Homo sapiens: one gene and its partner. The protein of the gene in region 2 purifies or fractionates together with the protein of the main gene of each other region. This does not show direct contact. Each region holds a gene or a part of one and is shown on either strand. Other genes may lie near its edges. The genes, in order: GUK1 and DPY19L2.

Evidence for each region.
Region 1: the proteins of DPY19L2 (region 2) and GUK1 purify together in Homo sapiens (affinity purification with mass spectrometry; 2 studies listed by BioGRID and IntAct, with this or other methods). This does not show direct contact.

The regions. Positions count from the first base shown.
Region 1 is NC_000001.11:228,133,631-228,149,488, reverse strand, and holds GUK1 (guanylate kinase), read right to left. Parts: upstream 9,211-15,858; 5' UTR 9,187-9,210; coding exon 9,126-9,186; exon of another isoform or gene 7,856-9,125; coding exon of another isoform or gene 7,660-7,855; intron 4,794-7,659; exon of another isoform or gene 4,737-4,793; intron 3,979-4,736; coding exon 3,865-3,978; intron 3,464-3,864; coding exon 3,422-3,463; intron 2,648-3,421; coding exon 2,551-2,647; intron 2,084-2,550; coding exon 1,945-2,083; intron 1,875-1,944; coding exon 1,790-1,874; intron 1,119-1,789; coding exon 1,033-1,118; intron 825-1,032; coding exon 792-824; coding exon of another isoform or gene 637-791; 3' UTR 538-636; downstream 1-537. UniProt on the Homo sapiens protein: Catalyzes the phosphorylation of GMP to GDP. Essential enzyme for recycling GMP and indirectly, cyclic GMP (cGMP). Involved in the cGMP metabolism in photoreceptors. It may also have a role in the survival and growth progression of some tumors.
Region 2 is NC_000012.12:63,610,122-63,626,806, forward strand, and holds part of DPY19L2 (probable C-mannosyltransferase DPY19L2), read right to left. Parts: intron 16,406-16,685; coding exon 16,348-16,405; intron 14,011-16,347; coding exon 13,919-14,010; intron 12,522-13,918; exon of another isoform or gene 12,163-12,521; intron 11,217-12,162; coding exon 11,117-11,216; intron 8,108-11,116; coding exon 8,030-8,107; intron 7,270-8,029; coding exon 7,183-7,269; intron 6,045-7,182; coding exon of another isoform or gene 5,971-6,044; intron 2,175-5,970; coding exon of another isoform or gene 2,129-2,174; exon of another isoform or gene 956-2,128; intron 1-955. UniProt on the Homo sapiens protein: Probable C-mannosyltransferase that mediates C-mannosylation of tryptophan residues on target proteins. Required during spermatogenesis for sperm head elongation and acrosome formation. Also plays a role in acrosome attachment to the nuclear envelope.

The DNA of each region.
Region 1 (15,858 bases), on a different chromosome or scaffold from region 2:
GGCAGCACGGCCCTGTGCTGCCTTAGACAGGCAAGCTGGGGGAGCACTGGGGAAGGAGGGAGGCAGCCTGAGCAGAGGAGGCTCCTCACACACCACACACAGCCCCTGGGGCAGCTAGGGGAGGGGCATCTCCCTCAGGGAACCCCTTAGACCTCGAGATCTAGAACCTCCAGCTGCCAGAGCTCAGGGGCCTCTCCTGGAACCTCTGGCCCATGCCAGACCCACAGGGTCGGGCACCAAGAGGCAGCCCTCAGGGCCCACCCCTGCAGCCTCAGGCTGCCCCATGCAGCCGCTTCCTGCTCCCCACTTGCCAGCCTGCCAGGTGGGTTGGGACCAGCCCTGCCACCTTCCCTGCCTGCCAGTCAAGCATCATGCTGCCCTGGGGCAGCAGCCACGAGCCGGCAGGCAGCAGATGCCTAGGCAGAGGCCATCTTGTGGCCCTCCTTGGGGCTGGTGGTTAGGGTGGGCTGCCGGAGCTCAGGGCCCGATCGGGATGATGGGGCCCCACCAACCTTGGGGCCACATTCCACTCATTTATGGAGTTTCTAATCCAACAGTTATTTTATTAGGATGTCAGCCCTGGGTCCAGAGTGAGAGATAGGGACAGGGGACAGCCCAGCGAGGCTGGGTCGGGGGTCACCCCAGGATGTTCCAACCACAGGGGCAGCATCTCCTCCACTCCACATGCTGGCCAAGGGCACAGAGCTGCCGTATCGCCTGCCAAGGGGGTGGCTCAATGCTGCTGCCCTGGTCCTGTATGGGCCCGGGGTGCCGAGAACAGACAGCAAGCCTCAGGCGCCGGTCCTTTGAGCTTTCTTGATTTCCTGCCAGTGAGGAAGAAAGGGAGTTGGGAGGGCTGGTATCCAGGAAGGGCTGGGCTTCCTGCTCTCCCTCCACCGTGGACCTCGGTGTCTCATGCCAGTGCTTGGGTAGGACTGTCCCATCTAACCTCAGTGGCCTCATGGACAACAAAGGCCTGGCCCCCAGGCCTCCCCTTGGGCCTTGCCCAGGTAGGCACAAGGATGGGCCCACCTCAGAGAGCGCCTCCTTCAGCTCTGCGTAGGCCTGGTCCAGGCTGTCGTTAATGATGACCACATCAAACAGGCCGGGCTCCTTGCCTGTGGGTGGGGCCTGGGGTCAGGGCACAGTGAGCCCATGCAGCCCCACCCCAGGTCCCACACGACCCCCAGAGCAGCCCACTGGCCTGCGGCTGTCCTCACTGCGGCTGTGGGACAGCTTTCCAGCCCAGCCGGGCCTGTGCAGGGTAGGGAAGGGCCGCCCCCTGGGCCTCAGTCCTCAGGCACCACTCCTGCTCTCTCTGGAGCCCCAGAACTTGGGTCTGGACACCAGCACCCATCAGGACTCTGGTTAGGGGCTACACTATCCTCTACACACACAGCAGAACATTAAATGCCCTCTTCTTGTGGGCTGCAGTCAGACCCAGAGAAGAGGCAACAGCTGTAAGAGGATGCACATGACACCCCCGGGGCTAGAAGGTTGGGGACATCTCATGGGACCCTGGGCGATGGGGGGTCTGGGGGCCCTCACGGAGACTCTGGGTAACAGAGGGAAATCTGAGGACCCTCAATGAGACCCTTGGTGACTGGGGGTGGGTTCTGGGGACCCTCACGGGGACTCTAGGTGTTGGGAGGTAGTTGAGAGGTCTGAGGACCCTCACAGGGACTCCAGGTGTCAGGAGGTCTGGGGACCCACAGGGTCCCTGGTGCCACAGACCTCAGAACCCTGACTCCCCTCCTGGCATTCCCTGGTGATCCCACGGCACACTCACTGCTCTCCATGTCGGCCTGGGCAGCAGCCAGCCGCTTCACCAGGCTCTCCTCGGTTTCAGTGTTGCGCTGCCGCAGCCGCTGCTCCTAAAAAGGGGGTGGCAATCAGAGCCTGGCATGCCCTGGCCCCCAGCCCCCAACCCTGCCCAGCACACACCAGCACGTGCAGTGAAGGCGGCTGCACAGAGATGTAGATGGGCCGCAGATCGGTGGCCTTGATGTTCCGCACACCCTGCAGGTCCACGTCCAGCACACAGATGCGGTTCATGGCCTGCACGGCCTGCACCGCCACCTTGCTGGGGAGAGGTGCCAGGTCAGCAGGGGTGCCAGGGCTCTCTGAGGCCTACAGGAGCTTCAGGGACACCCAGGCCCTCCCGGGCCCAGCGTTCTCCTCCCACAGCTGAGCCTAGGCCTGGCCTGGACCCAGCACCCGACAGCATCTCAAACCTGCTACCCCCACGCCCTGCCCCGCCTACAGGGAACAGAGGCCACCCACTCCCCAAGGTGCCTGTAGTGAGCATGAGGTGTCCTGTGCACCCTTCACCCTGCCAGGACAATGCACGGTGGCAGGACCGGGCCCAGCAGCCTCATGAAAAGAGCCACTGTGGGCCACAGACGTGGGAGCCTGGCCCTGGGCCACAACCTGGCCACATTCATAACCATGGGGTGGGTGGTGTGGATGGCGGGCAGGCAGCAGGCACTACCTGGATCCCTGTTGCCAACAGCAACCCTGGGAGCCCACCCACACCCACGCATGGCCCACCTCGTGCCATACAGGTTCCCCGAGAACTCGGCATGCTCGATGAAGTCGCCGGCTGCTATGTCACGCTGCATCACCTCCCTGGTTACAAAGTAGTAATCTGGGGAAGAGGAGGGGCCATCCAGAGGGCAGACTGGACCTGCACCAGGGTGCCCAGGGCCAGCTGCCCCCAACCCAGGCATGCCTGCAGGCCCCTCCCACACCCACGACTGCTTTAGTCAGATCCTTGCTGGGCAGGAGACATCTGAGGACCCCTCAAGTGCTGCCAAGTGCCTGAGCCAGACACCATTTCTCACACTGTCCTCACTGATGGAGATACGAGACTGCTGGGTTCCAGTGGGGAGTTGGGAGTTGGTGGTGATGGGGTGGGGACTGGAGACCAACAGGTTCTGGGGGAAGGTGGTGGGGGAACTGGAGACCGTCAGGTTACAGAGGGGACGATGTGGTGGGGTGACTGGAGACCACTGGGTTGCACGGCAAGGGGCGGGGGTGCTGTTGGGAAGGGGGTCCCTTGTCTTGAATCAGGCAGGCAGAGTAGCCCTTTTTACCAGGACTCCAGAAGACAGCTCAAAAGTGCTGATAAGTGCCGAGTCCAGGACAGGGCTGGGGACAGCAGCACTGTGGCCGCCTCCAAGGTGGGAGGAAGACAGCCCCAGGCCTTGGCCGGCCTCTCACACTGTACCCAAGGAAGGCGACACCACGCTGTGGCGCTGACACCCTGATTGAGTTCACCGGCCCTTGGAGGCAAGGACCCATCTCACAGATTAGGGATTGATGGGGGCAGGAGACGGGCAGCACAGCCAACACAGCTGCAGGGCCCAGCAGCCCTGCCCACACTGGGGGTGCTCCAGCCATAGGGCCCCACCCCACTCACCTTTGCCGTTCTCCTCGCCGGGCCTCGGGTTCCTCGTGGTATCTAGCAGAGAGACCTGTCACCCATCGGGGGCTGCTCGGAGCCCAATGCCCCACCCAGCGTTTCCCTTGCAGTCCCGACAGCACTTGAGCCCCAGGATGCAGGCAGCCAGTGAAGCACACCACTGGGAAGGCGCAGGAGCCTACAAGGCGAGGGTTCTCCCAGAAAGAAACACTGTGGCCCAGTTATCAGTACTCAACAGACCCAGGGAAGGGAGACACAGGCACGCAGGACAGCAGGAGTGTGATAACCTCAGGTTCTGTGTGGGGGGGAGTGTGCAAGAGTTCGGACAGTCTGCAGGGTGGGTGTGCCTGTTGGGTTTGGGCTCCTGGCCTGCTCACGGTGCTAGGACTACTCAGCAGCCTTGAGGTCTACGCACCCCTCCACGAGAGCCCTGGACTCACGGGACACGCTGAAGCCAAAGATGCCGCTGTGCTCCTGGAGCAGCCTCTTCAGCAGGGTGCTCTTCCCAGCTCCCGAAGGCCCGCTCAGCACCACAGGCCTGGGGCCCGACATGCCTGGGGGTGAGAAGAGAGGCTGTGGATAGCAGTGCGGCCTCTAGTCCCCATCTGCTGAGCTGCCTCTGCCTTCCTGAATTCATGGCAGGAAAGGGCTGACCCAGGGATGGAGACATTGGCCTGAGAGTCTCCTGAGAGCCTGGGTGTTCTTCCCCCTGAGCTCTGCCACGTTGGAAGGGCCGGCATGCACAGGGCGGCCCTCAGACCAGGCTCTGGGCACACGGGAGACGAATGGAAGGCCGGCTTTACTGGGTTCTCAGCAGGGGAGCCCCCCAACTGAAACCCACTGACCCTGTCAGCCTCCCCAGGGGTCCCTAGCAAGCAATGCTGTCTACTCTGATGACACCCTACCTGGGAGCTGCCGTCCCCACCTGGTGGAGTCACCTCCAAGCCCTCTGGGAGCCTGCTCTGAGACCCCCACCCCACCCAGGAGTCCAGCCATTTGCTCCCATGCATGGTGCTGAGTGCTGGGCTGCTAGGTCTGGAATGGAAGTGTCCCTGTCCCCGCCTCTGTCCTCTGGTACCTTGCCCTGCAGATATGGTCTTGTAAAGATCTACTGAATCTACACCTATTCCAGGAACTTCTCATAGGACTTGGGACTCCTATCTGTGATGCTGGTAATGCCAGAGGGGGTTGGAGGCCTCCCTCCCAGCCCCCAAGGGAAAGGCAAACAGGATCCTAGCTTGGACACGTGGCAGGTGAGGGCCCGGGAGCTGGCCTTTGCCTGGTGGGAATCCTCCCCAAGAACAGGGCCTACCTGTTTGCTGAGGTGCAGCCTCTGTAGTCAGCCTGGGGTGGGTCTGTCTGCTGGACTGAGAGCTGGGGGTGCTGAGTCCCTAATCCCCACTACGCCTGCTTCTGGCCCCACCCTTCTAAGCCACGAATAAATCCCCAGGGGGCCTGGCCCTGGGCCCTTGCAGGGAAGCAGCCCCATCCACCTGCTCTGCGGCTGTGCAGGAAGGAAAAGACAGCTCCAGCTCTTGCCCCAAGACCTGCACCTGCCCTGCCCTCCCAGTCCACATGAGCTGCACACACAGGGCCAGGGCAGCGTCTTCGAGTTGGGATGGGGAGCAGAGCTGAGGAGTGGGGCCGTGCACTGCAGCTGTGTTCAGGGGCTGGGCTAGAGGGAAGCGGATGGACCCCTGGCCACACGCACACCTTGGACACAACTCAGGCGAGGCGTGAATGGCCTCCTCCTGTTTAGGGCACAGCCGCCTGTGGGCAGACGAGCAGACAGTGGGAAGGACCTGAGGATGCCCTCCTAATCCCCAATTTAGGCCACCGAGGTAATCTCACAAATGCACCACGGCTGCAACTCCATCATGCACAGCGACACCCACCACACACATGCCACTCCCAGGCACAAAGGTATGCAGGATGTGTGCACAAACCTACCACAAACACACACACATGCATGCACACACAAACACACACACAAATGCACGCACACCAAGCAAATGCACACACACCACACATGTGTACCTGCAAAGGTACACATGCACACGCATACATGTCATTGATCACAAACACACCGGACCCCCAGTTAAAAAGACTCAAGAGGAAGGGAACTGCAGGACACCCACCCAGAAGTCCATGTGCTCTCCATAAGGGATAGACTCCTCCCTCCTTACTGCCTCTTCTGGGCTTTTTGTCACAAGCACACATCGTTTTCATCTCACCATGCACCCCATGCCCTCCTGGCTCTCCCACCCGCAGAATTTGCCCCTGCGCTTAGCTCGGGCCTCCCCACTAACCTGGCTCCTGCTGCTCACCCAGCCCTGCCACCTCCTCTACGTGCCAGCCAACCATCAGCACGCACTGCAGTGGCCAGGGTTCTTTATCCATTCAGCTTCTCCCAGCCAGCGAGCCCTGCAACCTCCACAGCCTGGTTCCCATAATGCACTAGCTAGGAGCCCCCCAGAGTCTCCCACAATCAATGAGCCATGCCACTTGTGTGAATTTCTGGCCCCTGCTTCTCGCCAGGGTGGAAGGGGTACAGTTCTCAGGACACATCCAGCAATTGCTACACACCTACTTGAAGCACTGAGATCACAGAAATTATGACTTGATGGTATTATGGTGACTTTTCTAATACGAAGGAGAAAAAGTAAAGCTAAATCATGTGCTTCGAAGGACCCGATATGGGAGAGCTACTCAAATGGTCCTGTGGGCTGGACCCCATGTGAGCTTCTGTCCTGTTGCTCCACTGAGCTGGCCCTTCTTAAGGTCACTCTGCCCTGCCAACCCACAACCAGCATGGCACTGGTGGGCCTGACAGGGCTGCCCCAAGGCCGGTCCTGCCCTGTTCCCCCCAGCCCCTGGCTCCAAGCTCTTCGGGTCTGAACCTAGATGCTACGTGACTATAAACCCACACAGAAGGAAACACAGTGGTGACCTCCACTGACCAGGCCTCCCCTCCTCCCTCCTGAGGGAGCGCTAAGCTAGTGAAGTGAAGCTGGGCCCACAGGCAGAAGACACCAGTTCGCCCAGCTGCTGCCAGGCAGGGGTCCAGGCTCCAGCCTTGCCAAGGGCGTCGTCTGCACAGCTGTGCCTACACTCGCCCAGCACAGGGCACAAGGCACACGTGGCACATCAATCGCCAAAAACTCTGGGAGTTTTTGCGTCCTCAGAAGGGGGAGAGCCACACCTTCTGAGGATCCCACCAAACTACCACAAGACCCTGGTCTCCATCCCCTCCTCGGCCCCAAACCCCATCCCCGATGCCCAGGAATTGGGGAGCTCGTGCCTCACTTCCAACTCCCAGGAATGGGGGGTGCTGGAGTCCCACCTCTGGCTCCTGGGTTGGGGATCTCCCCCTTTCCTCGCAAGCAGCAAGTGGCAGGTGTGTCTCTTCACCACAGGGCCCTGACAACGATCAGACACCAACAGATGCAACCCAGCACAGAGCAGACAGCAGACGCTGGTGGGCCCCAACCCCGCCTGTTTCCTCCACAGGTGTTGCCCCTGCACCACCCTTACCCCGCCAAGCCCAGGCTCCCAGGCCTCCCCTCCTCCCTCCTGAGGGAGCAGTAAGCTATTGAGGTGAGGCTGGGCCCGCAGGCAGAAGACACCAGTTCACCCAGCTGCTGCCAGGCAGGGGTCCAGGCTCCAGCCTCGCCAAGGGCGTTGTCTGCGCAGCTGTGCCCACTCTCGCCCAGCACAGGGCACGAGGCACACATGACACACCAATTGCCAAGAACTCTGGACGGGCCAACACTCCGCTCTTCCTGGGTCCCCTGAGTTCGGCTCTGCCCAAGCGTGAGGGCACAATGAGCAGACTACTGGGGGCCCTGGCCAGCCAGAGAGTGCAGAGGGCAGACAGTGAGTGGATGCGGGCCTTGCAGAAGCACAGCCACACCACCACCGCTGGAGACAGGGCGGAGGCACAGGCTGCCTGCCTGCCTGGGGAGAGACCAGTGGCAGGGCGGTCACCAAAGCCACCTTCCATGGAGCACACCCAAGGGAGAAAACTGTGGCCCAGGCCTCAAGGCTCCTGCAATCTTGCGGTGGAAACCACGGAGCCTTTGCCCTGACCAGAACACATGCGCCAAAGGTGTCTTCCTGTGGGCAGAGGGAAGCATTCCAGCAAACATTCTGTGCTCTCCACTCTCACCAACCCACAGTCGCAAACTCCAATCAGCTGCCTGGCAAGAAGCCACACAACCCACAACTGTAAGGACCTGCCAGGCACGTGGTCTCCACAGGAGCTCCGAGATGGAAGGTCTCCTGGGAGCCGCCGGCGCAGATCCATGTTCCGGAATGGTCTCTGCCAGAACGCTCCCTGGACTGGGCTCCCATGCTGCCCCAGCAGCCGCTTTCCTGGAAAGGCACTCCCTGCTGTGGCGGCATAATCTCCTCCTTCTGGCTTCCAGCCATCCTAAGGACTGAACAGAGTCACCACCTTGCCCCCGGCCCACTGTTCGAGGAGATGCTAACAGAGGGCTTGACCTTCTGAGAACCGAGAGAATTCAGCCCCCGCCTGGCCTCTCGTAAGACACAAACCACCAGACGTGGGCCTGGGCTCTGGGCTGGGCCAGGTGGATGAAGGGGAGGCTGGTGGTCCAGGCGGCTGCTCTTGGCTGCAGGGTTTCTGGGCACACATCCGGGTAGCACGCATCCTGGCCTTCAGCAACCTCGTTTTAAATGGGACCACACCAGGAGCAGCCAGGGCGCTTTCATTTTCACTTTCTTTCCCCGGGGGGGACAGGAACATTCCTTTACCTCCTGAGGAAATCGGGCTCTTCCAGAGCCACAGAGGAGTGAAGGCCCCAGCCCTTCACGATGCTGCGCGGCTATGTTTGGGTCTGTCCATCAGGGAGAAAGAAAAACCGGCCGAGTCTTGCACAGGGTCCTCGACAGCAACCCCAGGTAAAGAGCAGAGCAAGCCTGAGACAGGAAGGGGCCATGAGCCCAAAGACAGCAGAGCAGGACCCAGCCCGGGGCCTCAGGACCGACCTCTTTCATGCAAAGACGAAACCGAGGCCCACCACACGCAGGGTCAAAATCAACTTTGAGGCACCTGCTTCCCACACCAGTCCTTACTGGGGCATACTTCTAAGGCGACGCTCAAGAATGGCAGCAGGGCAGCTTCAAGAACCCCAACCCGGACTCTGGCTTTGGAGAATCCGAACCCCAAATGCCACACCCATGCGTCGGGAAGGCCTGCTGTTTCCCCAAGTCCCCGTCTCTGCGCCGTGCCGCGGAGTAGGCAGAATCCTGGGAGCCCCGGAATAGCCGGCTCCATCCGCCCAGGACCCCAAGGCTTGCAGGGTGAGGTGGGAACCGGAGCGCACACCGCGCCGGGCCAGCGGTAGGGACTCCCAGCTGCTCTCTTTGGCGGCGCGCCCAGGTGTCGGGAAGACACCGAGCGCTCCTATACGCCCGGGGAGCAGCTCGACACTGCGATAACTGCCGGCCTGCCCAGCTCCTGAGGAGCGCCCCGCCCTCCGGGACCCGGGCTCCGCTGCGTTGCCAGCCCGTCCGCCCTCCAGAGCTCCCCCGTTCTCAGGGCCCACAGTTGAATGCGGCACAGGGCGTCTCGGCTAGGAGGAGATCCGGAGGCGGCGTGGACTGGGCGACCGCAAAGCGCAGGGACCGCTGCCGCCTCGACCCGAGTCACCCTCGCGATCGCGCTTGTCGTACTCACCGTCCGGTGGGGCCCGGCCCAGGGCGGCCGCAGCCAGCCCGGCCAGCGGGCGCCGCAGCATCCGGGGCCACCTCTTCCGCCCACTGAACCTACGTGACAGCGCCGCACCGGCCCACCTCCGCCCGCGCGCGAGACTGACGTCATGAGGCGACTGCCCCGCCCATGTCTCACTCGTTCTTCCCCGCCCCTTAGGGAAGTACTTACCTCAGTGCCTCGCTAGCCCCGCCTCCACCTGCGCTGGCCTGTCGCGACCGCAGGGGCGTTCAGCACAGCGCCCTCCCAGCCCGTCTTCTCCCGCTGCGTCACAGCGCCACGCCGGCCCGCCTCCACACAGCGCGAACTAACATCACGACCCGCCGGCCCCGCCCACGGCGTACTTGTCCCGCTTGTCACTCAGAGAAGTACCTCAGTGCAGCGCGGGCCCGGCTTTCATCTGCTACGTCACAGCGCTGCCTCAGCCCGCCTCCTCCCGCTTATGTCACAGCGCCGTTTCCGTCCTCCATCTACACTGCAGGGACCTAACTAACGAACGACTCCGCTAGCCCGTTCCAAACCGGCCACTCTCCAAAAACCATTAATTGGGGAATGTGGCCGGGCGCGTGGTTCACGTCTGTGATCCCAGCTCTTTGGGAGTCCGAGCCGGGAGGACCGCTTGAGGCCAGGAATTGGAGACCAGCCTGGGGATCATAGGGAAACCCCTTCTGTACCAAAAAATTTAAAAACTTTTTTGTGCCTGTAGTCCTTGCTACTCGGGAGGCTGACGTGGGACGGTCGCTTGAGCCTGGGCAGTCGAGGCTGCAGTGAGCGGTGTTCGTGTCACTGCACTCCAGTCTGTGTGACAGAGCGAGACCCTATTTCTTTCTTTTTTTATTTTTTGAGACGGAGTTTCGCTCTTGTCACCCAGGCTGGAGTTCAGTGACGCCATCTCTGCTCACTGCAACCTGGGCCTCCTAGGTTCAAGCGATTCTCCTGCCTCAGCCTCCCGAGTAGCTGGGATTACAGGCGCCCGCCACCACGCCCAGCTAATTTTTGTATTTTTAGTAGAGACAGGGTTTCACCATGTTGGCCAGGCTGGTCTTGAACTCCTAACCTCAGGTAATCCACCAACCTTGGCCTCCCAAAGTGCTGGGATTACAGGCGTGAGCCACTGCACCTGGCCACGGGACTCTATTTCTAAAAATTATTTTAAATTTTTAAAAAAGATTTATTGAAGGCTGGGTGCAGTGGCTCACACCTGTAATGCCAGCACTTTGGGAGTCCGAGGCAGGCAGATCACCTGAGGCCAGGAGTTTGGGACTAGCCTGGCCAAAATGGTGAAACTCTGTCTCTACTAAAAATACAAAATCAGCTGGGTGTGGTCGTGGGCCCCTGTAATTCCAGCTACTGGGGTGGCTGAGGCAGGAGGATCACTTGAACCTGGGAGGTGGAGGTTGCAGTGAGCCGAGATCAAGCCACGGCACTCCAGCCTAGACGACAGAATGAGACTCCGTCTCAAAAAAAAAAAAAAAAAGTATTGAATGTGAACTGCAGGAGAGCAAGAAAAAAAGTAAAACTTTAAAAAATACAACTTCAAAAAAATGTGTTGGGGCTGGGCACCATGGCTCATGCCTGCAGTCCCAGCACTTTTGGAGGCCAAGGCGGATGGATCACTTGCCCCGGAGTTGGAGACCAGCCTGGGCAACATGGCAAAGCCTTGTCTCTATTTTTTTTAAATACTAATAATAAAACAGTTTGTTGGACAAGGGATTGTAACCTGGAATACATGTGCTATGTCATACCATAGGTGCTGCATTGGGGGAGGTGGGCAAGGAGAAGCTTTTTAGGCAAAAAAAGGGGAAGTTCACTGTCAGAGGCAAAATTATGTCATATGTATTCATAGGTCTCGCTGGCTTTTATTCGTGATTCATGAATTGAGGCAGCCTTCATTCTACAAAATAGAATAAAAGCCCCTGCCTGAATTAGCCAGGTGTGGTGGCGGGCACCTGTAGTCCCAGCTACGCAGGAGGCTGAGGCAGGAGAATGGCGTGGACCCGGGAGGTGGAGCTTGCAGTGAGCTGAGATGCGCCACTGCACTCCAGCTTGGGCGACAGAGCGCGACCATCTCAAAAAAAAAAAAAAAAAAAAAAAAAGCCCCTGCCTGGGCGATAGCAGAACCATGGGTTTTGTAAGGTGAGGAGAACGAGGAAACAAGATAGAAAAATAACAGATTGATAACCTTAGCTTACTTCAGGTTACTCTTTTGTAAGGGTTAGAGAGAAGAAGGGACTTCCTTATTATGCCAACTGAGGAAAAACTAATCTGTTTTGGGATTTAGTTTCTTATGTAGTATTTAACATAAGTGATTTAATTTTGGTTTGGCCTGGTCTATTGGGACCTAGTGCAAGAGCTCGGTCCAAAACAATGGCCTCCCATGATTTTTTAAAAACAATTTTTACCCATTTTGATCAGGCTCTCACCTAGCTTGACCAAAACTTAAAAGTGCCTCTCTCAGTTACTATCAGTTTGGGTTTCTGGTCTCAACATGTCATTGATAGGTTACAGTGTCTTCATGATCATGCTTTTCTTTTCTTTCTTTCTTTTTTTTTTTGAGACGGAGTCTCGCCCTGTCGCCCAGTGCAATAGCACAATCTCAGCTCACTGCGACCTCCACCTCCTGGGTTCAAACAATTCTCCTGCCTCAGCCTCCTGAGTAGCTGGGATTACAGGTGCCCACCACCATGCCCAGCTAATTTTTGTATTTTTAGTAGAGATGGAGTTTCACCATATTGGCCAGGCTGGTCTCAAACTTCTGACCACATGATCCGCCCGCCTTGGCCTCCCAAAGTGCTGGGATTGCAGGCGTGAGCCACCATGCCTGGCCATGATCATGCATTTCTTTGAGTTTGTGTCATTCCAGCTGAAGAGGGACCATTTGATGTTCAATGGATGGTCACATGCAAACATTTAAAACATTTGAAAGGATACAACACACCAGGGAGACTACTATTGTGACTGTCAGGAGGATAATACCAAGGGTTTGGAGTATGTTCCTTAGCCAGAGTCCCTGTGAACCCAACCAACGAAAACTGAATAGATCAAACAATAAGCCAGATGGGGAGTCTACCCATTTTAACCAAGTAGCCTGTTTGTTAATTTTTTGCAGCTGAGTCTACAATACCTGATGTATTTACCCATGTGCAACAAGATGTGTCAGAAACCACACAGACCCCTTCCTGTTCAGCTAGTAGGTAATCTATGTAAAATTAAGGCAGGGAGTGAGAAGAAGTGGGTCTGGTTTGCTTTGATGCCAAACAGTTGCATCAGGGATGTTGCCAAACTTACCCACTAAGTAAACTAAAGGATCTGTTGGGTCATAAAGATGAGAGTCTGGCCTGACAGACCCGATATATTTATCAGGTAACCCACAGAAGCTACTGGTGTGAAATTCTAACTACAGCATTAGCCTGCCAAGTGAAAGAGATAGGCATGAGCAAGGAAAAATTGAGAGGGGCAAGAGGCTAGTCTTCTTTGGATATCTGGGGAAAAGCTTCACAATGTAAAATGGTCAACTTCTGGTCCTGATTTGTAATATGACTGTCTCTGATTATGACAACAGATGGTTTGGTGAACTCTGTATGGTCCACACGTTGGCATGAGACTTGTCCCTTGATGCTTACATCAAGTTGTCCAGCTTAGTAGCTTTGTTCTTAAGGTGGAGAGTTGTCAACATATGTTGGAGGAAACAAGAAGAATTCAGGGTCCAGTCCATTCTGCAGGTAGATAATAAAAACTCTAGAACAACAAACAAGGCTACAATCTAAGAACAAGTGTACTATAATGTTCTTTCTTCTGAAACATACATTTTCTCTTTACAGTTGCCCCTCATTTCTACCAGAGATAATCAGAGTAAGACTAATTTGTTTGCAAAATGTTTAGCCTCATCAAACTTGCCCTGCTTATTTAGGTAAGTTCAGTGAGAATAGCATCAACCACATAGGCTCTTTTAAGTTTGCTTGGGTGGAACTTTAGATCAGGAATCTCAAAATGAACTTTTAAAAATCTTTCGATGCTAGGAAGCCAGTGTAGATAGAATGCGTCTGTAAGTACTGCAGGCAAAGTCTGTATCTACAGTCTCAATTTCGATATCCCAGTCATAATATAACCAATATTTCCAATTGTGTCCTGTTATAAAGAGGGCAGATTCTCCTCCTCCTTCTTCCTCTTCTTTCTTCCTCTTCTTCTGTCAGGGCCTCACTCTGTTGCCCAGGCTGGAGCACAGTGGTGCAATAATAGCTCCCTACAGCCTCAACCTTCTAGCCTCAAGTGATCTTCCCTCCATCTCAGCCTCCCAAAGTGCTGGGATTAATCCCTCACTTTTGGGAGGCTGAGATGCCCAGCCAAGAGCAGATTCTATTGAGCATATACAAATAATTATTTTGTCATAAAAATAAGAATCCTCATGAGTAGTTTCTAAATTCTGGAAGGATCAGGTAGGGAGAAAAAAGCAATGTCTCCATTTTTGTTCACAAAGGTATGTTACCAAATTGCCTTAAGCTATAGATAGCCTAAAAGAAAAGGTTTCCCTAAATCTGAAAAACGAAAGAACCAGCAATATTTTTGAATTCTAAAAAGACATAGAAACCCATAATTCATCAGTCCATTTAGTCTTGTGTGATTAATTTTTGTCCTGCTTGATGTTGGGTTAGCAATTTGGTGAGTCTAGCTTTTCCCTTAGAGTTCTAGAAATTCTTACCCAGCCCAGTGGTATGATCTTAAAATGATCAGAAATCTGTACTTGTCAGAGTCTTTTCCATCTGTGGTGTCCTGATATAGAGATGTTGTCCACAGTTCCTAGCTCATAGTTCCCAGAACCATTGTTACAAAGCATGTTGGGTGCTTTGGGTCTCAGGAGACAGAATATTTCTGACCTTCTCTTTCACTTGCCCAAGGCAGGACTCTAATCTGATTGTGGATCAAAAGACCCTCATTCCAGAAAGGGTCCTTCGCCATACTCTGGAGGAAGGACGTGGACAGGTCCTGCTAGGTTTAGATCAGACTTTATTTTTATCCAATCGTGTTTGACACAGTTGTCCATGCTTCTATCATGGACAACCAATAAAGTATAGAAGGCCCACAGGACAGGATTTGGGGGGCATCCAGAGAGCTGAACATGTGGAGGCTGAGAGAAAGGTGAAGAAGAACTCATCCACAGGCTGGGAGGGTGTTGCACCCCAACTCCATGAGGACAGAAGCTCCTGCGCTTAGGACCCTTCCAGACTTCGCCCTATGCGTCTCTTCATCTGGCTGTTGATTTGTATCCTTAAAAATACCCTTCTTAATAAACCAGCAAACATAAGTATTATCTTCACCCAACTGCCGCCGCACTGCCATCATGGACACCAGCCACATGCAGCCTATCAAGCTGGTCAGGGTCACCAAGCTTCTGGGCAGAATGGGCTCTAAAGGACAGTGGTCGCAGGTGTGCATGGAATTTATGGAGGATGCGAGCCGCTCCATCATCCACAATGTAAAAGGCCCCGTGTGCGAGGGCGATGTGCTCACCCTGTTGCAGTCAGAGTCAGAGGTCGGGAGGTTGCGCTGAGCTTGGCTGCTGGCTGGGTCTTGGATGTTGGGTTCGACCACTTGACCAGTGGGAATGGTGTGCTGCGTTCTCCTTTATTTTATTCTTGGCCTGCCACGCAGGAATTGAGATGTGTCTTTAAATAAAGCATTTGTGTTTCAAGTTAAAAAAAAATTGGCTGGGCACGGTGGCTCAAGCCTGTAATCCCAGAACTTTGGGAGGCCAAGGCAGGCAGATCACCTCAGGTCAGGCGTTCAAGACCAGCCTGGCCAACATGGCAAAACCTCGTCTCTACTAAAAATACAAAAGCTAGCTGGGCATGGTGGCGGGCGCCTGTGATCCCAGCTACTCAGGAGGCTGAAGCAGGAGAAATGCTTGAACCCGGGAGGCGGAGGTTGCAGTGAGCTGAGATCATGCCACTGTACTCCAGCCCGGGCAATGGAGCAAGACTGTCTCAAAACAAAAACAAAAACAAAAAACAAAACAAAACAAGAAAACACGTTTCCCTGAGTTCCGTGAGCCACTCTAGCAAATTAATAAAACCCAAAGAGAGGGTTGTGGCACCCCCAACTTGAAGCCAGTTGGTCAGACGTTCCCAAGACCTGGACTTGCAACTGGTGTCTGGGAGTGTCAGGGGCAGTCTTGGGGACTGAGCCCCGAGCCTGTGGAATCTGACACTGTCTCCAGGTAGATAGTGTTAGAATTGAGTTGGAGGACACCTCGCTGGTGTCCACTGCCTGGTGTGTGGGGAAAAACCCTACACCTTTCGTCACAGAAGTCTTCTGTGTTGATTGTCATGGCAGTGTGAGAACAAAGGAAAAAACCCAATTTGAGAGAATTTTTCCCAAAGCACCAAGGTTTCCATGCATCTCCTTGAAGACACAACCACTTTAGGATTATAGTTGCTTGCAAAACACTTTTAGAAAAGCATGAGTATAAACTAATTAACTGTGAACAACCACACTTTAAATGGCCATGGGTAAAGATCTGGTGAGAGTGCCTAATAATAATGTCTCAGTTGACAAGGAAATTTAATTATTTCTGTGGCATACAATGATTTAACAAAATAACCAAAATCATGGCTAACATACCAGAGTTTTACGAATTTTATACAATTTATGAAACACATATTAATAACATGTCCACACAAAAATAATTCAAAGATGGCTTAGC
Region 2 (16,685 bases):
TTAATATAAGAAGAAGAGATATAAAAAATATACATGTAATAGTTATTAGTACTTTAAAAAGCCAACTAAATGGGTCAACCAGAAAACTAATGAGATTTCTTACCTACAGCGAATAGGCAGTAACAGGGTGAAAAGAAAGGTAGAGTGAATGTGCTGGAAGGAATAGTGGGAAGTATTTTCTGAGTATAATTATATATATATATATCTTCCTCATTGAAACATGGTAATGTTTCACCCAAAGTAACTAAAATCAATCAGAATGAAACTTCTGCTTCTGTCCAAGTTTGTATAACAGGAACCACATTTACTTTCTCACCCTAAAAAACTAAAATACCAAGAAAAATAGATTATAGAGCAACTATGAACAATTATATGCCAACAAATTAGATAACTTATAAGAAATAAATTTCTAGAAACATACAACCTACCAAGAGTAAATTATGAAAACATAAAAAAAACTCAACAGATCTATAACTAATAAGGAGATTGAATCAGTAATAAAAATTTTCTCAACAAAGGAAAACCTCGAACCAGATGGCTTCACTGGAGAATTCTATGAAACATTTAAATAAGAATTCACACCAATCCTTCTCAAGCTCTTCCAAAAAATTGAAGAGAACACTTCTATACACATTTTATGAGGCCAGCATTACTCTGATACCAAATCCAGAAAAAGATACTACAAGAAAACTACAGGCCAGTACCTCTGATGAATATAGCAAAAAAAAAAAAAAAAAAAAAAAAAAAAAAAAAACCACACACACACACAAATATTTCTTTTAAAAATGAGCAAAGGACTTGAATAAACATTTCCCCAAAGAATAAATACAAATGTCCAACAGGTATTTAAAATGATGTTCAACATCACTTATCATCAGGGAAATGTAAATCAAAACCACAATGAGATACCACCTCAAAACTTAGGATGGCCATTATAAAACAAAACAAACCAAAACTAAACCAGAAGTAACAAGTCTTGGCAAAAATGTAGAAAAATTGGAATGCTTATGCACTGTTGGTGGGAATATAAAATAGTGCAGCCAAAGGGCACATCAGGTAGTCTACACAGAAGAGTTTGCTTCAGAGAGCAGCAATATTAGCCATAAACTAACCAGTACTTTCATTCCAGCTAACAAATCTTAAAAGCAAGACCTGAAAAGATCAGCCTATGTTCAAGTGGCTTAACTGCATCACAGAAAAAAGCTCAAGAATATCTATAGGAATAAGAAAATAATCCAGCAGCTAACAAGGTAAAAGTCACAAAGCCTGGCATCAAAGTAAACATTGCCAAGCCTGCAAACACTTAAGAAAACACAGCCCCGATATGAGAAGAAGAAACAATTAATTGAAACCGACACAGATGACAGAATTAGCAGGTGGAAGCACTGAGGCAGTTAGTATAACTGTATTACACATGGTGAAGAAGTGGTAACAGAGAAAGAACATGTTAACTAGAGACACAAAAATACTTCAAAGATCCAAAATGAACTTTTAGATATGAAAACTACAATGACTTAAAAGAGAAATACACTGGATGTGATTAACAACAGGTTAGATACTGCAGAAAAACAACCAGTGAACTCTTGAAGACACAGCAATAGTAACTATCCAAAATTAAATTAAGAACAAAAATAAACATAGGCTCCATGAACCACTGAACAATTTCAAGCAGCCCCATATGCATGTAGTGAGAGTCCCTAAATGAAAGTGAAGTGGGGAGGCAGAAAAATATTTGAAGAAATAATGACCAAAATTTTTCCAAATTTGATAAAAATTGTAAACCTAAAGATCTAAGAATTTCAATTAATCCTAAATACAAGAAACATAAAGAAAGCTATAGTAAGGCACATTATATAAACAAACTGCTCAAAATCAGTGGTAAAGAGAAAATCTTATCTCTAGCTAGGAATAGCTAGAGAAGTAACATATTATTTACAGACGAAAGCGTAGGGATGTCAACAGATTTCATAAGAAAAAAATGCAAACAACAAGACAAGTCAAGCAGCATCTTTTAAATTCTTAAATAAAAGGGCTGTTAACCTGCAATTCTACACCCAGGAAACATACCTTTCAAAAATGAAGGCAAAATAAAGACTTCATGACCAGGTGATTTGCACTAAAGGAAATGTTAAAGGAGGTCTTTCAGACAGCAGGAATACAGTAGGTCAATCTGGCTGTACACAAGTAAAATGCACCGAAAATGGTAACTACAGGGTAAATATATAACATTTTAAAAATTTCAAATACTTTTCAAAGGTAATTTACTGTTTAAGTAAAAACAAAAATTTATTGAGATTTCTATATCACATGTTTAAGTAAAATGTATGACAATAACATGAAATAAATTTAAAAATGTACTTTATCAAAATATGTGGGATGTTGATAAAGCAGTACTTTGAGAAAAGTTTATAGCACTAAACACCTGTGTTTAAAAACAAAAAACAAGAAAGGTCTCAAGTCAATGACCTTGCTTTATACCTTTAAAAAAAAAAAAAAGGACTAGGAAAAAAGGAGAGCAAAACCCAAAGTAAGCAAAAGAAATGAGGTAATAAAGAATGAGTAGAAATCAATGAAACAGAAAACAAAAGCAGTAGAGCAAATCAATGAAAACAAAAGCTCGTTCCTTAAGAAAATTAATAAAATTGATATACCTCTAACCAGACTGATCAGAAAAAAAAATAGAACACAAACATCTAATACCAGGAATGAAAGAGGAACTATCACTACAGATACTATAGATACATAAAAGAAATAAAATATTATGCCTTTGTCAATGAATTTGACATCATAAATAAAATTTAAAAATTCCTTGAAAGATACAACCAAAGTTCACTCAAGAGGAAATGGATAACACGAATAGCCTTATACCTTATTAATGAAATGGAACTTGTAGTTAAAAACATTCCTACAAAGAAAGTCCTAGATGGTTTCACTGGTAAATTCTACCAAATATTTAGGGAAGAAATCATAAGGATTTTACACAAATTCTTCAGAAAACTGGAGAAGAGGGAACACTTCATAACTCATTTTATGAGGCCAGCATTGCCATGATACCAAAAAAGACAAAGATGTCACAAGAGAACTATGAACCAATTATTGTCATGAACTTAGGTGCAAAATCGTAAGTACAATTTTAGAAAGCTGTATCCCACAAAAAATAATAAAACAGCATGACCAAAGTGAGGTCTATTCAAGGAATGCAAAGATGCTATAACATTTGAAAATCAACCAATATAATGCAGCACATTAACAAAACAGAAAAGAGAAACTATATGATATCATATCTTCGAAATTCATTTTTGAAAAAACTCAGCAAGCTGAACAGAAGGGAACTTCTTTAAGCTGATAAAGGGCTTCTCTGAAAAATCCTATAGCTAACACAGTTACTTAAGGATGAAAGACTGAACAATTAAACAAAACTTACATTTCAAAATGAGCCATTTAAAATAAGATATTTTAAAATACTAAAATATGTGAAAGAATGACACAAATCAAAATTAGAAAAACTGAGAAATGAGCTGACAGAAATCAAATAATTTGAAATAAAACAAAAATAATTTCAGACATAAAAAACTAGAAGGAATATGAGGAAATGAACATAATAATAATGCCTTAAGAGCTATAAAAGGTGAAGAGAAGAAACTTTTAGAAATAAAAAAAGAAATAAGATAAAAAGTATTCAAGAGAAAGTGATACGTTTATAACGTATCAAAACTTGTATAACTTTTAATAGCAACCCTTTTGGACAGAAGTAAAACAAGTTCTCAAAGCAAAAAATAAAAGAGACAGCTGGGCGTGGTGGCTGACACCTGTAATCCCAGCACTTGGGAGGCAGAGGCAGGCAGATCACCTGAGGTCAGGAGTTTGAGACCAGCCTGGCCAACATGGTGACACCCCGTCTCTACTAAAAATACAAAAATTAGCTGGACGTGGTGGCAGGCGCCTGTAATCCCAGCTACATGGGAGGCTGAGGCAAGAGAATCTCTTGAACCCAGGAGTTGGAGGTTGCAGTGAGCCAAGACTGCACCATTGCACTCCAGCCTGGGCAACAAGAGCGAAACTCCGTCTCAAAAAAAAAAAAAAAAGAAGAAAAGAAAGAAAAAGTAAAAATAAAAGAGACAAGAATTTTACATAGAGCCAACTTCACTTTCAAGTAAAAGGTGACAAAACAAACTGACAAACACATCAGAATTGAAGGAATTCTCTTGTAGAACAAGACTAAAATAACCAAGATAACTGGGAGATAACGACATAAAGACTGGTGATAAATAAATGCATATTTCTTCACATAAAAACATGAAATAAGGTTGATAAGGCAGAAAGTACAGTATGCAATACTCTGTTCTGACAATATAGATACAGAATTAGTAAAAAAAATAAAATGGGTGAAGAGAATGAAAGAAGGATATGCAAAAAATTCTTTATTTCTCATAATCATGTGCGTGGTGCAGTATAGCAATTCTCATGCACACACTTTGGGAGAAGGCAAATGGATATATGATATTCTATCATCCCCTGGCTTCTTGAGACCCACAAGAAACAAAAGCAAATACAGGATAGAAAGAGTTAAGTAAAAACCCTACATTCTTGAATTTGATTTGGAAATACCCATCAGAACTTGTGAGCTAGTTTACCATAAATGCATGCACACACACATATTTTCATGGTAGATTTTTAAAGAAAGAGAGCCTGCAACCTATAATATTTCCTAGCTCTGCCCACTAATAAGGCCTAGAAACAATGACCTACTCAGTATCAATGAGCATCCTTGGGTCCCAGACTGCGGTCTTAAAACACCATTTCCCCAGTAAAGGCAACGAGGGTGCCTTGCAGGAATGGCTTCCTCCAGGTTTTGGGCAGGAGTACACAAGAGAGACCTGGAAAAACTTGTCATACATGACACAAGTATGCTATCAGACCACGAGTGTCATGTCAGAGAACTTAGTAGAAACCTAAAGAGGCTCCCCTGGTCAACAAAGAAACAATCTGAGAATGAGTAAAGATGTTAATTTCAATTAACTTGAAATACATAAAAAATGTTTAAATCCCTATGTTCCTAATGAAACCTAAACACACATATACACAGCCCAAAGAGCCTACATTTGGAAGATGACAGGGAATCAATTCATTATTTTTAAAACTTGCAAATAAAGAGGTAAATCAACATTTACTTTACTTCTCCTAAATGAACTTTAGATGACAGATTAGAATGTGACCACTTTGCAATCCCTAATGAATTAACAGAGCCAGCATAAGGCACTGAAGGCTAGTACCATAAAGAGAGACATTATGTGCCTTTTAATGAAAGAACAATACTAAAGACTTGCAAAAGTGATCAAGCCTGAAGCAATCCAAGTTTCAGATCCAATTTCTAATATATCAAGCTATACCATGAGACAAAGGAACATGCTTAGCTACACCACAGGAACTCAAAAAGCAAAATCTGGACCATGAAATCCTCCACATGTTCTATGACTGTGGTTCTTCAACAAATAAATTTCATGAGGATAAAACCAGGCAGATATGCAGGAAACTTGTAGCTAAAAAGAGAAACTTAAGTGATGAAACTATAAAGGAATGCTGGAAAGTTACTATCATAGCAGTCAAGATAGTCATTATCGTTTTAGGGCAGTACAAGGGAGTGCTTTGGGACAGGTCACATGGAGGCTTCTACACTCATTTAGAGAGTTATAATTTTGATATAATGGTAGTTTAAGAATGTTTGCCACATAATACATAACACAGTCAGCCCTCCACATCCATGGGTTCCAGTTGCTGCAGATTCAACCAACAGCAGATAGAAAATATTTGAAATAATAATAATACAACAGTTTAAAAAGTACAAATGAAAAAACAATACAGTATACAACTATTTGCATAGTATTTATATTGCATTAGACGTTATAAGTAACCTAGAGATGATTTAAAGTATATAGGAAGATGTACATAGATTATATGCAAATAACACACCATTTTATATAAGAAACTTGAACATCTGCAGATTTTAGTATCCACAGGGGTTGGGGGTGTCCTGGAATCAATCCCTGCAGACACGAAGGGGACATTGTACTCATCAGTATTAGCCAGCACTAAGTCAGCACACAAAACATTTGCTTTATGCAGTTTTATCTGTACTATATTTCAAAATAAAAAAGTTTTCATTAAAAGAGGTAGATGAGCACACTATTAGGAGTCCTCTACTCTGTAATGGTGAAATAGTTTGACAAAATGTTGGAAAGAAAGAGCATTTTTTCTGGGAGAGAAAGAGGAGGGATTACTATGAGGGAAGAAGGATACGGAAAGCAAAAATGTTAAAACATAAGGGCAATCCCAAAAGATTAAATCACTGCACCATACATGGAAAAGTGCTATATTTTGGCATTACCGTAGTTGGTATCATTTCTGATCAGTGTGGAGATGGGAGGTACAGGAGAATATTCTAGGTTCTGGCTTATAGATATCAGAAGTATAACTACAATGTAATAGAACTGATTTACTAAACCACCCTTCCAAACACATATCCAAAAGAGTGTCATTCCATGTAGTTCCCGTGAGGAGACTGCACACTTATTCTAATTATCTTGCCATCACTCAAAGTAGTTTGGAACTACACTTTCTAAACTGCCTTCAGAAATAATTTAGTTATAGGTGCAAAATAATCGGTCTTATGACTTTACTGTCACACCATCGTTTGAGCAAGATCTGTATTACCCAGCCCAATCACACAAAATATTCACAAAATTTTGGTCATTTCCAAAAATCAAATCCACTCTTGAAAGGCAAGACATACTAAAGAATGTGCCATAGTCTGTGAAGGAAACTCAGAGGAGTTCCAAAAATGTTCTGGGCAATGGCAGTGTCACTGCAATGAGTACTTAACCTCCTCAAGTGACTTAGGAGAAAAGAAGTCATTTTTATCATAAAATGGGATATGATTAAAGTAAGTCTTATTACTTTATGATCATTTTTAAATATTTACTTGGGCACTGTCTTAAAAAGAAAAACTTCCTACTATAGTATTTTTCAAGGATAAGACAGATAAAAAGCTTTGCTTGGGAAGAATTTTGTCATGTTGAGTGATAATCAGGAAAGGGCCTATTTATTCTCTTATACCTGTTTTAGACAGGAAAACATGCTATTTGGCAGGTTAAAAAAAACCAACTTTATGAACTAAACACTTACCCACGTCATTAACAAAGATGAAGAATAATAAGAAGATAAGTACATTGAATTTCCAAACATCAAAATGAAACTAAGGGTAACTGAAATCTGAAAAAAATGAAAAAAATACATTTTATGGTTATTACATATATTGGCATAATGCATATTTTGTAGGTATATAGCCATTTCTAATGCAAATTTATTTGCATAAAGATGAATGACTCTTGGCCAAATGATAACAGAATTTCAAGTCACTGCTAGATTCTAAGTATTAAAATTCAAGACCATAAACTCTATCTGGCAGAATTTAACTTTTTCTCCATCTGCTACTTGGAACAATGAAAAATAAGTCTATGATTTCTATTGTTTTAACAATGGAGTAATATAATAAGAAAGACTTAGTTATAAATACCAGTTTTACTAATCATATTTTTGTTAGACTTCAGGACTTCTATTATTTATGAAGCTTTACTAACTTTTTATGTTTTTAAGGAAGCTATGTTTGGGACCTAAGCCAAAAACAAAATTGCAAGAATATAAAATTTCAGTTAGAGTGTCATATTCAGGCAAAATGCTAAAAATCTCATGTCTGAGAAAGAAAAGGCAGTTTTAAAAGTAGTAATAATAATAAGTAAAACAAAAATAAAAGTTCTAGAGAATAAAACACATCTACAGTCCAGTTGAAAGTATAATCTGTTATAATATGTCATCTATAATATACATTTCCAGTTTTCCTTCTGGATATCACCAATACCATATGTATTAAATATTACCAAAGAGGAGGTACCGTATAAAACAGAATCACTTCGATTTTATAAACTCTGAGAACCTATCTTAATATTTGACTTATATATATTAAAAATGTTACCATGTTCATATAAATGATCTTCTGAAATTTGCTTGGTTCAATGTATCCCACAACATACATGGGAAATAATGATGCTATCTGAAATAATATAAAAAAGCAAAAGTGAAAAAAAGTATAGAAAACTAACACTTTACTATTCACAGGCAAAGTAAATATAAGAGGAGGGCTACAGTTCTAATAATGGTAAGCAAAGGAATTTGAACCAACCTTCCCACTAAGAACTAGAATGGCTAGGAAAAATATAAATATATAAATAAAAATATTTTTTAAATACGTATAAAAGCCACAGACTATTAACAAAGCAAATGCAGAATTAAAAAGATGGATGGCAATCTATACCGATGAGCATGACATTTTAGGCCACTTTTCTCCCAGAGGTATCTGCCAATTTCAACAGAGGCAGATGCCTTCCAGCTGAGAGGCAGTTGGAAGACCAACAAGCTGAGCAGGCATTTCAGCAGATTCAGCAGAGTGCACCAAGAAGGGTGCTTTAGTTTGGAGTTTCAAAAGGCCATACTATAATAGTGAACCAGAAATCAAGCAGCCCTCAGAAAGACTGAAACCCATCTACGGATCATCTCAATCTGATTGCATAAAGGTGGTTCAAGATTTATCAGTGCTTTTTACTCGCCTCTCCAATTTTTCATGTATGATGTCCAGCACCACATCAAAAATAACCCAACATAGATGGAGATAAGACACTATCACTAACATGATAGAAATAGATCCACAAAAGATTTAGATCAGGGATCAGCACATTTGTTATATAAAAGGCCAGATAATAAATATGTTATGCTTTGTTGGTCACATACAGTCTCTTGTATATTCTTTTTCTATTTTTGTTCTATAACCCTCTAAATATATAAAAATTATTCTTAGCTTGGAGATCACTCAAACACTTCTCTGGCATAATCAGATATATCTTTAAACTATGCTTCAAATGTTCAAGGAAATAACTGATAGGATTGAAAATTCCAGGAGAGCACAGAAGTCATAAAAAAAAAATTGGGCCAGGCATGGTGGCTCACGCCTATAATCCCAGCATTTTGGGAGGCCAAGATAGGAGAACTGCTTGAGCCCAGGAGTTCAAGAGCAGCCTGGGCAAGATGGTGACACCTCATCGCTACAAAAAATTAAAAATTAGCCAGATGTGGTTGCACAATTAACTAATTTTAACCTTAATCTACGAAAAACACAATTAAGAATAAAATCTTAAAGTACTTCCAGAAAATAACATTGAATTATCCCTCTGTAAGCATGAAACACACACATACAAACAAAACTATATACATTAGTAAAGAAAAATGAAAGCCTAGTATATATCCAGAGAATGACTAGAAAAACATTAACAGCAATATCAAACTTCTTTTTTTTTTTTTGAAACTGAGTCTCACTCTGTCACCCAGGCTGGAGTGCAGTAGTGCAATCTCGGCTCACTACAACCTCCACCTCCTGGGTTCAAGCAATTCTCTGCCTCAGCCTCCCAAGATTACAGGAGCCCACCACCATGCTCAGCTAATTTTTTTGTATTTTTAGTAGAGATGGGGTTTCACCATCTTGGCCAGGCTGGTCTTGAACTCCTGACCTCAAGTGATCCACCCGCCTCAGCCTCCCAAAGTTCTGGGAGTACAGGCGTGAGCCATCACACCCGGCCCCAAAGAGCTTCTTAGTTTCATCAGTATCACTGGATTAATAAATTTGCTTGCAATGAAATGATGCTCATTAAAAATCTATTCTACTCTGTTGGCATGTGCAAATAATGAAAACCATAGAATAATGTCTGTGTTATAACCTGAAAGGGGCCAACTTTTATGAAGTTAAACAGACGGAATACTTTAAACATGCAGCACCAATTGAGCTGGGGTTATAATTTCATTCTTTGTAGGCTATTGGCAGCATGAGACTTCTTGGCAGAATTTCTCACTTCCAATATAGAATATTATTATTATCATCAGCATTTGTTATGTAGGAAGGAGCTCTGATGGAAAATCTTAGTATCATGAAATGTCATCAAAATTCTCCATTTACTCTCTGCTTCCCCAGTTCAGTTTCTTGTTACTAGTTATGTAGTTGCTTTAGAAACAGGATATGGGCTCAGCTCACTTAAGCAATGATGAGCTTTATGATTAAAGCTCACAGAAATGGTTCCAGGTAAAATTCTGCTATACAGACAAAACAGCCAACATTCAGCTGAATTAGAAGCAGAACGTCCTGCTGTGAAGAGCAGGATTGGCCCTTGGCATGCTGTGTAGCTTGGCACCCAGAATGATTCCCAGGACAAAAGGAAAATCTATAGGTAGATATATACAGATATTATCTCAAACACCAAAAATAACATTTGTGAATAAAAATAATACAAAAAGTCTTTCACATGCCGAGCCTTAAAATCTGTCAAACTAACCAATACAGTAAAAGAATGTGGAATTATATTATTTCATAAAAATCATACCTTTAAGTAAACTTTATTCCCTATTTTGAAAATCTTTTAGGGCGTAAATGTAACCATATTTAAAAATTTATATGGAAACAACCAAGTACATCTTGCGTTCAACTTAATTAATATACGCAAAGGAATATAAATCATTCTATTACAAAGACACGTGCACCCATGTCTTCATTGCAGCACTATTCACAATAGCAAAGACATGGAATTAACCCAAATGCCCATCAGTGATAGACTGGATAAAGAAAATGTGGTACATATACACCACGGAATACTATGCAGCCATAAAAAGGAACAAGATCAGGTCCTTTGCAGGGACATGAATGGAGCTGGAGGCCATTATCCTCAGCAACAGGAACAGAAAACCAAACACCACATGTTCTCACTTATAAGTGGGAGCTGAACAATGAGAATACATGGACACAGGGAGAGGAACAACACACACTGGGGCCTGTCAAGGGATGGGGTGGGGAAAACATTAGGAAAAACAGCTAATGCATGCTGGGCTTAATACCTAGGTGATGGGTTGATAGATGCAAAAACCACCATGGCATACATTTACCTACATAACAAACCTGTACATCCCGCACATGTACCCCAGAACTTAAAATAAAAATAAAAATTAATTTAAAAAATCATCTTACCTGTGTAAAAAGTATAAACTGAGCAAATTGCCAGGGAAGCATAAAAGCAACATTGGAAAGACAGAGTGCAATGAAGGGCCTTCTATCATTGCTTGAGGTCCTTAATAGAGAGAATTGATACCAGTAAGTTTCACCCTAAAAATGGGCTGTCACTGAAAAGAAAGACTAATTGCAAAATGATAAAATCTACATTATTCCATTACCTTTACTATAATACAACAAAATATAGTTAACTTCTTAAAGTATACTAAAAAGAACTTGAAATACTTCATTCCTTGCATGAAGCAATCAAAATTAGAGTTTTAATATTAACATTGTAATTTACCATTAAATATTTTAAATACAAAAGCTCTTTTTCCTCTACATATGCATGACATTAGAAATTTATTACTCCAGCAAGGAGGTCAGAAAATAGGATGCAGCACTGCCCCTGCACACCTCAACATGCTTCTCCTGTATGTGTAGCAACAACTTTTATATGCCACAACTTTTGTGCTTCAAAAAACTTTGAAGAGAAATATAAGTGCTGACAAAGTAATAAGTTAAAAACTATGGGAAAAATTTAAGGAGAAGGAATCTTAAAAAATTAAAAAATCATTCTAGAATTCAGCTGAAGCATGTGGAAGTTTAAATTGTCCATTCTGCATTACTGAGATGTATTGGGAACCAATACCTTTTACCACAGAGAATTACAGTAACTTTTAGATATGAAAAAAGAAACACAAACATTTTACATAAATAGTAAAACTGCAACTCTTCCTTTTATAAATTCTGTATTGGATTTTGATGAATCTTTGTACAATCGTATATAAATTTTCAAAAACAAAATTCTAAATGTTCATATTGTTTACTAATATTATCATAAAATACTCATTATGTACTTTGTAATCTTATATTTTTCAAACAAAAATTACTTTTGACTAAGACACAGAGTATAGCACATGCCCTCAATGATACAACCCTAAATGTTCTAATTAAGACATTTTATTCCATGAAACCCCTGACTGACCAGACTGATATCACTTCAAAAAATAAAAATAACCCACCTTCCTAGGAATTAAACTGGGAATGAATAGCAAGGGGTGATGAAGAATGGGCAGCTTCCATCACCTAATCTTTGAGAGAAGGCAAAGTGTAGAGCAAAGATATAGAAATCTGAATGAGGAGGAGGTTCCTAAATCCAAATTCAACCGCAGAATATACTTGTCAGGTTGGTAAGAAATCAGAAGTTAGCCTGCTCCATTCTCAAGGTTTGTGCCACCCCAGTACACTACTATTTACCACTCTTCAATTAGCTTTATCTGAGTGCCACAAATATTTGCATGGACGTGTGCAGTGTTCTGTGGTTAAAGAGATAAATATGGCATGGTCCCTGTTTCCAGTGGTACTTTTAAATACATATAATTGGCCGGGCACAGTGGCTCACACCTGTAATCCCAGCACTTTGGGAGGCTGAAGCAGGCAGATCACTTGAGGTCAGGAGTTCGAGACTAGCCTGGCCAACATGGTAAAACCCTGCCTCTACTAAAAATACAAAAATTAGCTGGGGATGGTGGCGTGCACCTGTAATCCCAGCTACTTGGGAGGCTGAGGCAGGAGAATCGCTTGAACCCGGGAAGCAGAGGTTGCAGTGAGCCGATCGTGCCACTGCACTCCAGCCTGGGTGACAGAGCAAGACCTCATCTCTAAATAAATAAATAAAAATTTGTGTATGTGTAGACGATTCATAAATTTACTGTTTTAAAAAATAAGGAAGACAAACAAATGACTTTTATATAAGGCAGAATCTCCCAGGGACTAGTAGGTGAAGAATGGGGTCCTCTGGGAGTTTGGAGGAGATAGTGATCATTATTTCATTCAGTGAGAGTTCTCATTAGTATTCTATCAAACTTATTTCTCTGATAAGGTTATTTATACTATTCTACCACTTATGGGGTTTTTTGTTCATTTCTCAGACCTCTTAAATATCTAAAATGCTTATAAATGTAATCCCTACAAAAAAAGTGTATCCAAAAAAAAAAGTTTGAAATGAAACTGGTTGTCCTGTTAGAAACATTGGTTGTTCAGAAATGCTTCATAAATATGTGAATATATATACTCCTTATCCATCTAACTCCGCATTTCCCAAATTCATTTGCACACAGAACACTTTTTTCATGGCACAGTTATCAAAACCACAGGTTAGAAAACAATGTCAGAGTACTTAAACTGTGAAGAGAAAATGTAATTGTTTCTCAAAAACTTTTGAATCTTGGCAAACTATATACAAACGCATACCTTTTGGTTTATTAAAACATAATGTAGTTATCTAAAACCTGTAGCCTACACTCTTAAATGGAGAGCAATTTTTACATAGCAATTTTGAATTATTTTCTTAACTCTATACTCAATTTACTTTTAAAATAACTAAAAAATGGTCTAAATTTGGTAATTACAACTTCATAGATTGAAGTGTATATATGTAATATATATATTTACATTTTTTTAGAGGGAGTCTTGCTCTCTTGCCCAGGCTGGAGTGCAGTGGCACAATCTCGGCTCACTGCAACCTCCACCTCCTGGGTTCAAGCAATTCTCCTGCCTCAGCCTCCCAAGTAGCTGGGATGACAGATGCACACCACCATGCCCGGCTAATTTTTGTATTTTAGTAGAGATGTGGTTTCACCATGTTGGCCAGGCTGGTCTCGAACTCCTGACCTCAAGTGATCCACCCACCTCAGCTTCCCAAAGTGCTGAATTGAAGTATATTTTAAGAAACTTAAATTATAATTTATTTGCCTTCGTTTTATAAATCGAAGTTACCTGAGAATCAAAGTTAAAATACACATCTGAAGTACAAGGAAAGGATAGGAAAAACTTTCACGGAGAGGTGGTGTCCACATCACACGGGTGGCCTGAAATCAACAAAATGCCCACTTTACATCCTATTTACTACAACAAACATATTAAAAAACCAGGGGTGAGTTTGTTTTAGTAATTTTAATACTAGGCTCACTAGATCCCATTTCTGAGTGTCTGGCATAGCTTCTCAGTTTTTGAAGCTCTCTTAACTCATGAGGCCATTATGTAGACAGCAATTAACTACCATGTCCAGAAACCAGCAACAGATATATCAGACCGAGCAAAAGGAAACCCAAGGGACAAACAAGATTGTACGTATAAGAGTTGTGAAAATTCTGGAACTGACCAACTAGATCCACAGCCCAGCCCTGCAGTATGATCCTGGCATATGATCCTGGCATCCCAGGCTTTGGGATATATGCATGCCAAGACAAATAGCTAAACAAATGTCACCTAGGTCATTTGCAAGCACCAAGAGAGTTTCTACATAACAAGTAGGAATGAATATAAATACACACTTCGAATAGCTAGGATTGCCTCAGAATTTGTAAAATGTACCGTAAAAAAAGGTTAAGTATATATTTTAAAAACAACTAGAAGTATTTGGGAACTACAAATGTGATGCAAGTAATAAAGGTATTAAATTTTCATACGAACTTTAAAATTACTTCTAAGACATATGGGTCAGAGTATTGGAAAAATTTTCCATCAAAAATTCTGAAATTCTAGAAAGAATGTGAACTCTTATTACTTTGCAAGAGTCTTAAAAGTTATTGCTTCTCTTCCAAGATACCAAAATTGTAAATGTTGGAAGAGGAATTATGATACATATAAGAAAGTCAACTTATACCAACAGTTGTCTGGAACACTCAGAGAAAAGCCTTTGTCTTTATGTCAGCACATTGTTGAATGACAATGCATTTGTTTGCTTTAAAATAATATATATAAGGATTTTATGTATAATTTTTATGATTCCTTTATCTAATTGATTTTTAAAAATTAACCCAAGAGCAATGGATAAAAGTACTTCTACCCTGGCTTGGCATGGTGGCTCACGCCTGTAATCCCCAGTATTTTGGGAGGCCAAGGTGGGTGGATCATGAGGTCAGGAGTTCGAGACCAGCCTGGCCAACATGGTGAAACTCCATCTCTACTAAAAATACAAAAATTTAGCTGAGCATGGTGGCACATGCCTGTAATGCCAGCTACTCAGGAGGCTGAGGCAGGAGAATTGCTTGAACCTGGGAGACAGAGGTTGCAGTGAGCTGAGATCACGCCACTGCACTCCAGCCTGGGTGACAAAGCAAGACTCTATCTTGAAAAAAAAAAAAAAGTACTTCTACCCTATGTAACCTGTGACATAACATATTAAATGTATTGCTCCCAAGAGCTAGTAGTCAGAATCTCTCTCTTTTTCAATGCCATATCCTCAGCATCTAGCAGAGCATGGACATGGTATGTACTCAATAATTTGTTGAATGAATCCATCATATTTGAAATAAGCTTCTATGAGCTCTTTTTTAGGTGGACTATGTTTCATTGGGCTGAATTAGTAAGTTAATGTCTATTTTGAATTGAGCATTTTGCATTACTGAACAGACAGCATGATGTAACAGAAAGAAGTGAGGGAGCAGGTGGCAGTGTCTTAACTGTGTCCCTGCTGTCAGGCCTGAGGCCTCTTTCATTGTTGTTAAGGGGAGTGCAATGTATACAAAGTTTCAGTTAGGCAAGATGAATAAGTTCTGGAGATCTGCTATACAACATTGTGTTAATACTATATTGTATACTTAAAAATCTGTTAAGAGGGCAGATCATATGTTACTTATTCTGACCACAATAAAAAGTTGAATATATATGTTATATATATATAATATATAAGTTTTTATAAAATATAACTATAATTTTATAATTTATAAAATATAAATTAATATATATGTGAGGTTTTAGAGGCAGACAGATATAGAATGGGAAATCCAGCTTCATCATGTAGTAAATGTGGAATGTGGATAAGTAACTTAACTTTCTCTAAATTTAAATTTCATAACTTGTATGGTGAGGCTACCACCACCCACAAAAAAAGTTTAGTGGGAATAAATCAGATAATGTGCATGATATGATTCAACTCAACAAGTACAATATTTCCTTTTCTCTACAGAATATATGTATATGTATATATTTACTAAAAATAAGGCAAGAGATTTCATGTTTGAAATTCTAGCTATTTAAACATTTCAATCAACATGCTTAAAATATCAACTTATTACACAAGGGTCTTTAAAATATTGTGAAGTCATAAGTAGTATACAATTAAATATTGTTTTGATGAGTATATTTCCTTGTTCCTCTACAGCCTCTTCTATTTCTTAAAAATTGCTTTCTAGAAAACAAACCTCTCCATGGTTGAAAAAGAAGCACAGTACTGTAATAAGACCTCCCAGTTGAGTCCCACTGTAAAAAAAAAACAAAAAAAACAGAGAATACAATCAAAATTCATGTAAAATACAGTGAGTTTTTCACAAAATTACCTCAGAATTTAAAATCACAGTTTTCTATATTTAAAACATCATAGTACTAAACCATACCCATGTGGTTGAAGTTTAAATCCTGAATGTATAATTCTAAAAAGTGTACGTATAAATTAATCTCAATTGTATAATTTGTTATAGCTAAAATACTTTCTAAATAAAATACATAAGGTGTGAACATAATTTTTTTTTTGAGATGGGAT